Linked DNA regions of Homo sapiens: region 1 is linked to region 2. The links come from fine-mapping of genetic effects on gene expression. A gene starts in region 2. The other region holds a variant in brackets. All regions are shown on one strand. Distances are from middle to middle.

The links. PIP is the estimated chance that this variant, and not a neighbour inherited with it, causes the effect.
Region 1: its variant is the best candidate, but not a certain one, in a credible set for the expression of DLGAP4 in tibial artery (GTEx, PIP 0.52).

What each region holds. Positions count from the first base shown.
Region 1 is chr20:36,453,739-36,458,117 of GRCh38, forward strand. The region is part of intron 7 of DLGAP4 (DLG associated protein 4); the gene reads left to right. Among named protein-coding and RNA genes, the nearest start is that of MYL9, 86 kb to the right of the region's middle. RefSeq lists an enhancer at 598-1,398. The variant G/A (reference allele first, on the strand shown) is at 2,554.
Region 2 is chr20:36,304,274-36,308,652 of GRCh38, forward strand. It overlaps DLGAP4 (DLG associated protein 4), which reads left to right and starts at 2,066. Exons shown (of 13, transcript NM_001365621.2): 1 at 2,066-2,239.

The sequences.
Region 1 (4,379 bases), 150 kb after region 2:
CCTGGCCAACATGGTGAAACCCTGTCTCTGCTAAAAATACAAAAATTAGCTGGGCATGGTAGCGGGCACCTATAATCCCAGCTACTCTGGAGGCTGAGGCAGAAGAATCGCTTGAACCCAGGAGGCGGAGGTTGCAGTGAGCCGGGATCGTGCCATTGCACTCCAGACTGGGCGAAAAGAGTGAGACTCTGTCTCCAAAAAAAAAAAAAAAAAAAAAAGAAAGAAAGAAAGAAAAGAAAAAGAAAAAAGAGTCCGGGCACAGTGGCTCACGCCTGTAATCCCAGCATTTTGGGAGGCCGAGGTGGGTGGATCACCTGAGGTCAGGAGTTTGAGACCAGAATGGCCAACATGGCAAAACCCCGTCTCTACTAAAAATACAAAAATTAGCTGGGCGCCTGTAATCCTAGCTACTCGGGAGGCTGAGGCAGGAGAGTCACTTGAACCTGGGAGGCAGAGGTTGCAGTGAGCCAAGATCGCACTATTACACTCCAGCCTGGGCGACAGAGCGAGACTCTGTCTCAAAAAAAAAAAAAAGATAGAAAGAAAGGGCACTCCTTAAGACACTTAACAGCCATCTGTTGAAAAATTGTCATGTCACACTTTTTGTTAGAATAAGGTCCTTTACTTCCATTTGCCAGAAATTTGTCATAATAATTATATAATTAAATTATGTCTATGTGGTGAATGGCTCCCCCCGATATGTAGCATCCTTGATCAGTATAAAACTTGTACAACCATATATGGCGAGCCTGCCCAAAATCACTCCCTCCACAGACAAACACCAGCACACACAGGCACATCCTCACCACTGTACATCCAGCCACTGTCTCCCTACTGGGTCACCCCTGCTCAGAAGGCTGCCCCCTTACTCCTCAGCATCTGTCTCCAAGGAGTGAGCAATCGGGTCCTTTCTCCACCCCCAGGGCTGTTCTGAGCCCCCACGTTGCTGAAGGGCATGAAAGCTCTGTCCTTCTCACAGAGGCATCTGTGCACTCAGGTCCTGTGCAGGCCGGTGGGTTGATGTAGGGGAGCGGCAGTTATTGAGGCAGTGAGAGCCCCTCTCAAGCAGGGCGTGGGCAGGGTGAGGAGCTGCCTGCCTGCCCGCCCACCCACGTGGACCTGGCCAATTCTCCACTGCCAGTGCCACTACTGCTGTCCCTGTTCTCCCTCCCCCTGTCTGACCCAGATTCCACATTCCAGAAATAGCTCTGGCAGGTGACTGGCAGGCGGGGTCAGCTCTAGCTGGGATGGTGGGAGAAGCAGCCGCTATGGATGCGTGCCCCTCCCCAGCCAAAGGACCTATCTAGGAGGGGGCTTGGGGGTGCCATCACTCCCCAGTCTGCCCCCTCCTGCCTCTCTTCTCTCTATGCCTCTGAGAAAAAGAAGAAAGGAGAACAGCCTCCCTCCTCCTCCCTCCCTCCTCTTACTCTGCCATCTCCCTCTCTTTCTTCCAGCTTCCCCTCCCTTCCTCTCCCTCTTTCTCCCCCCACCATCTTTGCCTTCTGTCTGTCTCCCTCAGTTCTCTGCTTCTCCCTCCCACCCTCTCTGCCTTCCTTCCCTCTCAGTTTCTGGCCCTCCTCCCCGTCCTCCCTTTCTGTGTCTCTCCCACTCCCTCTGAATCACAGGGAGGCTGTGATGACAGCCAGTGGCCTGGGCAGGCAAGGTGGTGGGCTGCAGGGTGTACCCCCACTCCTGCCAGCTGCATTCTCTGCACCTGAGTGTGTGCAAGCACACAGGCACACACACTTGGGCTCACTCCCTGACAGTGCTTGTGGCTCTAGGCTGACCTGGGATGGGCTCCAGGCCTGGGAACCACCCTTGCTCCTTGCTCAGGGACCCTGAGTTCTGTGTCACTCTGAGTGGGCACCTGCCCTTCCCTGGGCCTCAAAGTCTCTATCTGTGTTGTGAGGCCTTGGTTTGGGGACCCACAGGTACCTCCCATCTGTGACAATCCAGTCATCAGCTGCTATGCCTGCCCCTCTTTGTCCCATCTTCCATCCCCCAGCTTCTTCTCTGACTGCCCTCCTACCCCTAACCTCCCCCCGGCACCACACACTCTGTATACAGGAAGGGAGGTTGATAAAATTGCAGTACACAGTCAACCCTCCAGTCAACCCTGTCCCCCAACCCTACCCTGGGCCCACCTGTCCCCTCACTCCACCGCAGGCTCTTGTCAGCCCAACGCCTCTAGTCTCCACAGTGTCAGGGCTAAGAGGAAACTCAAAGACCATCATGTCCGGAGATTGCAAATGGACTTCAACCATGTGTCATCTCTGATCCCTGGAGCTCAGTTCTGAGATTTGGTTAAGCAAAGAAAGGTGCCACCATCGATTCGCGATGTCTACCGTAGCCAGAAGAGTTACATACATCTGCAATTCCTGATCTAACCCACTTATCCCAACATGCACGTGCGCACACACAGACATGCACACACATTTACAGATATTTCACAAAGAAACATCAGCCTAGGGAAGATGATTATCTATCAAGGTCAAAGTCAGCCAGCTAGTAGGTCAGGGAGCAGTTTCCTACCTGGGTGTGCCTGACTTCGAA[G/A]CCCTGGGTTCTCCATTGCCCCCTGTGCGTGGGAGCCACCCAGTCCTGGTAAAGCAGTACAAGCATGGGTAATGAAGGTATGTTACAGGAGTTGCAGGGGAAGTCCTCTAGCAACATGGGCAGGATGGATTAGAGGCTGAGAGGCCACTCACAGGTTGGTGCAGTGGTCTAGGTAAGTGACAGTGAGGTCAGGACAGGGGCCATAGGGTCAGAGAATAATGGGAGGACCCAGGAGGCCTTCCCAGAATGAATAATGAGGAACCACAATTCCCTACTGCTGAAACAGGCACCTCTCCACAGAGGACACTGGGCAGAAGGCAGGCTTCCTGTCTGGGGTCCACCAACCCTTGGACTACGACATGCCTGATTAATTGAGTGCCTACTGTGTGCTGAGTATATGGATCCTCACTCTTCCATGTCCTGTTTTTAGCAGATCCACTCAGCCTTCTGGGGGAAATAGTGACCAGGACTGAAGGACTGGTGGGCAGGCCTCCAATCCCAGGATTGAGACTCTTGAGACAAGACAGGGGCATTCTGTATCCCCTCAGGGGGTAGAGAAGTCACCCCAAAGGAAGAGAGATGAAGGTGTTTAAATAGAACCTTGGAGGCCCTACGGCATGGTGGTTAAGCACCTGAGCCTTGCAATCAGGCATCTTTCACTGATAGATGTTTATTGATCAAGTGCTCTGGGCCAGGCTGTGTTGTAGGTACCATCAGTGAGCAAAATGGAAATCCTTGCCTTCATGGAGATTGTATTCTACTGGGAAGGGGAAGGGCAGACAAAACAATAAACATAAATAAGTGTGTGGTTTGTTGGTAGTTGGCACAGCATAAGGGGTCCTGGGAGTGGTGGCAGAGTGCAGGGAGGGGTGCCGAGGTATAAACAGGGTGGCTAGGGTACAGCTCATTGAGAGGGAGATTTTGAGTGAAGACTTTTTTTTTTTTAAGACGGAGTCTCACTCTGTTACCCAGGCTGGCGTGCAGTAGCGAGATCTTGGCTCACTGCAACCTCCGCTTCCCGGGTTCATGTCATTCTCCTGCCTCAGCCTCCTGAGTAGCTGGGACTACAGGCGCTCGCCACCACGCCCGGCTAATTTTTTTTTTTTTTTTTTTTTGAGACAAAGTCTCACTCTTGTCCCCCAGGCTGGAGTGCAATGGCTGCAATGTCCGCCTCCCTGGTTCTGGTTCAAGCGATTCTCCTGCTTCAGCCTCCTGAGTAGCTGGGATTATAGGCACCTGCCACCACACCTGGCTAATTTTTGTATTTTTAGTAGAGACGGGGTTTCACTATGTTGGCCAGGCTGGTCTTGAACTCCTGACCTCAGGTAATCCGCCTGCCTTGGCCTCCCAAAATGCTGGGATTACAGGCATGAGCCACCACGCCCGGCCAATTTTCTGTATTTTTAGTAGAGATGGGGTTTCACCGTGGTAGCCAGGATGGTCCTGATCTCCTGACCTCATGATCCGCACACCTTGGCCTCCCAAAGTGCTGAGATTACAGGCACACCCAGCTAATTTTTGTATTTTTAGTAAAGGGGATTTCACCATGTTGGCCAGGCTGGTCTCGAACTCCTGACCTCAAGCTATCCACCCCACCTCCCAAAGTGCTGGGATTACAGGCATGAGCCACCACACCCGGATTGAGTGAAGACTTGAAGGAAGTGTGGGAATAAGCAGTGCTGGGAAGCGCTCCAGGCGGGGGGTGAGTGGTACAAAGGCCCTGAGGCAGGAGGTGCCTGACAGGCTGGTGGGGGGCAGAGCACTGAGGAGAGAGCCATGGTAAGAGGTGAGGTTCGAGGACAGGGAGGGGAGGGTTGGGTCTGGCC
Region 2 (4,379 bases):
CCACCCCGGCTTAAGACATAAACCACTTCAAGTATATTTAAAGCCCTTACTACAACATTCCCTTCCCTCTCTCCCTCACGGTCACTACTCTCTTGAATTTGCTGTCTATCACTCCCATGCATGCTTTTACACTTGTATTACATATGTATGTGTCGCTAAACAATATATGGTATTGTGTTGTGTGTTTTCAAACTTTATGTATCTGGCATGAAATTATGTTTTCCATCTGCAACTTGCTTTTTCCATCCAACAATATATATTTTTATTTTAAAAATTGTATTGAAGTATAGCATTCATACAAAGAGCACACAAATTGTAAGTGTACAACCCTGGATTTTCACAAACTGAATCAACAGTGTGTTTTTGAGATTCAGCCTCACAATGCATAAGCTTGCAATCACCTATTTTGAGGATTGTGGATCACAGACAGTTTTCCATTGTCTGAATGTGTTGCTATTTATCCAGTTTCCAAATGATGGACATTTAGGCTGTGTCCAGCTTTTCACTATTACAAACGATGCTGCTATGAGCATCCTTGTGCAAGCCTCCCGGGCCCCCATGTGAGGTGTTCTCGAGGGCAAAGCCTGCTCATCTTCAACCTGATCATATATATACCGCCAGGTCGCTGTCCAGCCCCTGGCTCTCGCTGGCTCCCAGCTCATTCGCCAAGATCTTCCCACTGCTCCAGGGAGCCCACTCTCCTCCTTGCTGACACCCTGCCCAAACATGCCACCTCTTTGCCTGCTGCATGCAGGTGTTAAACTCACCTTTCCATCCAGGCTTTACTGAAGCCCTGCCTCTTCCAGGAAGCCCTCTTGGGCAGCGCTGGGCCTCAGGGTGTCATCTCCTCTGAGTGACCTCCTCTCACCCCAGTTGTTAGAGCCAGAGAAGATAGAGACAAACCCAGACCAGACACTGGGGAAAGGGGAATGTGTTCTGGAGAAAGGAAATATGGGTAGACTAGTAGGGAGTGTGAGAAGCTGGGGTACGAAACAGATTGCTCTGGGCCTTGATGGATGAGTAGGAGTTTGTCAGGTAGAGAGGTGGGAGGGCATGGCAGGCACAGGGAAAGGCAGAGGCTGGGCACTGAAACAGTCATCACTGGGTTGGGGATGTGAGCAGGGTGGGTGGGTGGTGGAGGAGACTGGAACAGGGCTGTGAGGAGCCTTGCAGGCCACCCTTTCACGCCATTCTGACCCTTCTGCATTCAGAGGCATTCTCTGGAGATGGCTGTGTGTGGGAGCCAGAGAAGGCAGGCACATTCATTTGACACCTACTGAATGCCAGGCACCGGTAAAGAGCTCATACCCATGATCTCTTTGGTTTCTCACCCAAGTTGGGGATAGAGACTCGTGGTGTCCCCATTTTACAGGTGGAGGAATGGGGCTCAGAGAGGGACAGTCTTTTGTCTGTAACCACAGAGCCAGGAGAGGCAGGGCTGGTACGCAGTTCAGGTTCATCCCACTCCAGAGACTGCATTTAACCCCCGTTCAGCCAGAGGCTAGAAGACACCTGGGAGAGGGTTCTGCGGAAGCAGGTCACCGGGAGGGGGCACCCATTCCTAGAGGCAGGAGCCCCAAGTTCTCGGGGGTGGGGTGGTTCCTGACTGGCGCGGTGTGACCCGGGCCAGTCTCGTTCTCTCTGGGCCTCAGTTTCCCTCCTCCACGGGGCGGCGATGGTCAACACAGGTTCCTGCCGGCCCGCCCCGTAGCCTGGGGTTCCAGGCTCCCGTGCCACCGCGGCCCGCGCTGTGTGACCTTGTTCCAGTAGCCTGCCCTCTCTGGACTGGCGGCCCCGGATTTCCAAGCGCTCTTCCGGATCGCGACAGAGCGGTCGCCCGCTGCGGAGACCCTCCCCCTTCCCCCGGGTTGCGGGGGCGTGGGTGGGGGTGGGGCGCCAGGAACGGCGCGGGCCCCCCCAAGGCCCCCCCAGCCCCGCGCCCGCGGCCCGATCCGCGCCTGGTTTTGGGCGCAGCCGCACGGCCCCCTCCCCCGCGCTCCTCTCCCCTCTCCCCGCCCCCTCCCCGCCGCTCTCGGGGAGCCGGGGCCGCACGGCTCCTCCTCCCGCAGCCGCATCTGGGGCGCCGCGCCGGCCGGAGGAGAGGCATGGGGCGCCCGCGGGCCGGAGCCGGGGCGGGGGCCGGGGCCTAGGCGCGCGGACCTGCGAGCGGACCCGAGAGGCGGCGGCGGCGCAGCGGAACGGCAGAGCGGGCCGGAGGCGGCCGAGGCGCCCGGCGCAGGTGAGGGCGCGGGGGTGGCGCGCGGCGGCTCCTACCCCCTTCCCGGGCCGGCGCGCTCCGTCCCTCGGCTAGACCCCCCGATCTGGTCTCCTCCCCGACAGACCTCCCTGAACCGGGGGACGGCGCTGGCGCAGAAAAGCCCCCTCCCCTGCCAGTTCTGTCTTCCGATCCCGGGTCCGAGGGGCCGGCTGTGCGGCTGGGAAGCGCCTTCTCCGGTTGGGATCGCCCCATCCATGTCTCCCCGGACCCTCAAATCGGGGGCGGCGGCACCGGGGCCCGGAACCCCTGTCCGGGACCGGATCCCCATTCCGGCTCTTTTTCCCGCGGACTCCCCCGTACCCCATATCAAGCGGCTGCCAAAGCCTGGAAGCCCCCTCCTCAGGCCCGCCCCCTAATCCGCAGGGCGGCCTGGGGGTCAGGCGGACCCCTCCCGTGCCCGGCCAACCTTGGCGCTTGGGAGAGCAGGGCTATGCCGGCCCGGGCATTCCTCCATTCAACCCAGCTGCCTCGGATCCCGTCTCGGTAGACCCGGGAGCCGCCGGCTCCCCCCTTCCCGAGCTCTTTCCCTGACCTGGCATCTGGGGAGGGGGCGGGGGCAGCACCCCCCTCCCGCGCTGCATAGCGCCCCCTCCCTGTTTGCGTCCCTGGGAGGGGCTGGGCTGACCCGGGCACCTGGGCTGGGGGGGCACTCACATGGCTACCGGAGGCCCCCACGTGCGGCGCCCCGCGGAGACAGGGGTTCGCGTTCAGAGCTGGTGGCGGATGGACCAGGTGGCCGCGGGGACCAGCTGGGTCCAGATGTGCTGGGCCTGCTGGAAGGGGACAGGTGCTACCTGGACGTGTAATGGCCCTTGGTCTCTTTTGGCCGAACCTGCCGCTCCGATCCCCCTCCATCCCTTCATCCCTCCATCCCTCCATCCCTCCATCCCTCCGGCCCTTCTCCCCTTCTTCCTCCGCTGCCTGTGTTGCAGAGAGGGGCTGTCAGAGACTGTTGATGTGGGAAAAAATGAAATGGGGGAGGGGTTGTGATTGGCAAAGGCCAGTTGTGCCGGGAGCGGTGGGTAGAGGAGGTGCCCTGAGAATGGGAAGCCCTAAGCTTGGAGGGCAGCGCTGATGGGGAGAGGGTTCCTGGCACCCCCACCTGCCTGGAAGTGGAAATGACATAGCGGGAGGGGGCTGCAGTTCCAGCCCCCGGGGGACTGGCCTGCCCTGCCTCTACCTCCACTGCACCTCCTCTCCAAGCCTAGTCCCCAGTAGGGAGGGGGGAGTCCTGGCTCTCTCTGCCTCTGAGCCCTCACTTGTGGGAGGGGGCTGTTTTCCGCCAGCTGGAAGTGGTGGGAATCAGTTGTACAGGACCATCTCCTAGAATGCCTGTTGGAAGAGCCCTGTTTCTGTCCCTCCTTGGTGGCCACCTCTCTCTTGCCTTCTCTGCCAGAGGGCACTGGGCTGCCTGGTCCCAGGGTGGGGCTGCAGAGCTGGTGCCCTGGCCTGGCCGATGGGTGGCTGGAGTGTTGGAGCCACCACCAGGCCCTAGAGCCGGCTGTCGGGGCCAGTCAGCAGCAGACTCCGAGTGTGTTCCCAGCAGCTCCGGAGACGCTGGCTGTGCACGTGGGGCTGGCTAGAGTGCCTGTCTCCCGCTGTGGCAGGGGTAGGCCAGGGATCCTGTGTCCTCCAGGAGCTGGGACAGCGCAACTCAACTTCTGGGAGTGTGCCCGTGTGTGGTGTCCATGGCGACCCCGTACTCACCTGCCAGAGGCCTGGTGAGGCCTGTGCTGGGCGCTGGGGAGTGCAATGGCTGACAGGGTCCCCACCTCCAGGAGCCTCTTTTTTGTTGGGGGAGGCAGCCTGTGTCAGGCATTGGAGACAGTGTCCATGCTGAAGAGAAACTGTGAGCTGGACGGGACCTGATGGCTGGGTTATGTGGAACCCCGGGTGCCAGCCTTGAGATGGAACTGCAGGTCTGAGGGCTGTGCCCCGGGCGTGAAGCTGCCTGGCAGCTGAGTTGGTGTTTTTGAAGGAAGGCTGTGCAGCACTTGGGAACTAGGAGAGAATGTGTGCTTTGGAGCTTTCGGGAGACGCTGACGTATCGGATGTATCGGGGCACCCACTGACATCTCATTAGGTTCTTGTGTGGTTTGTG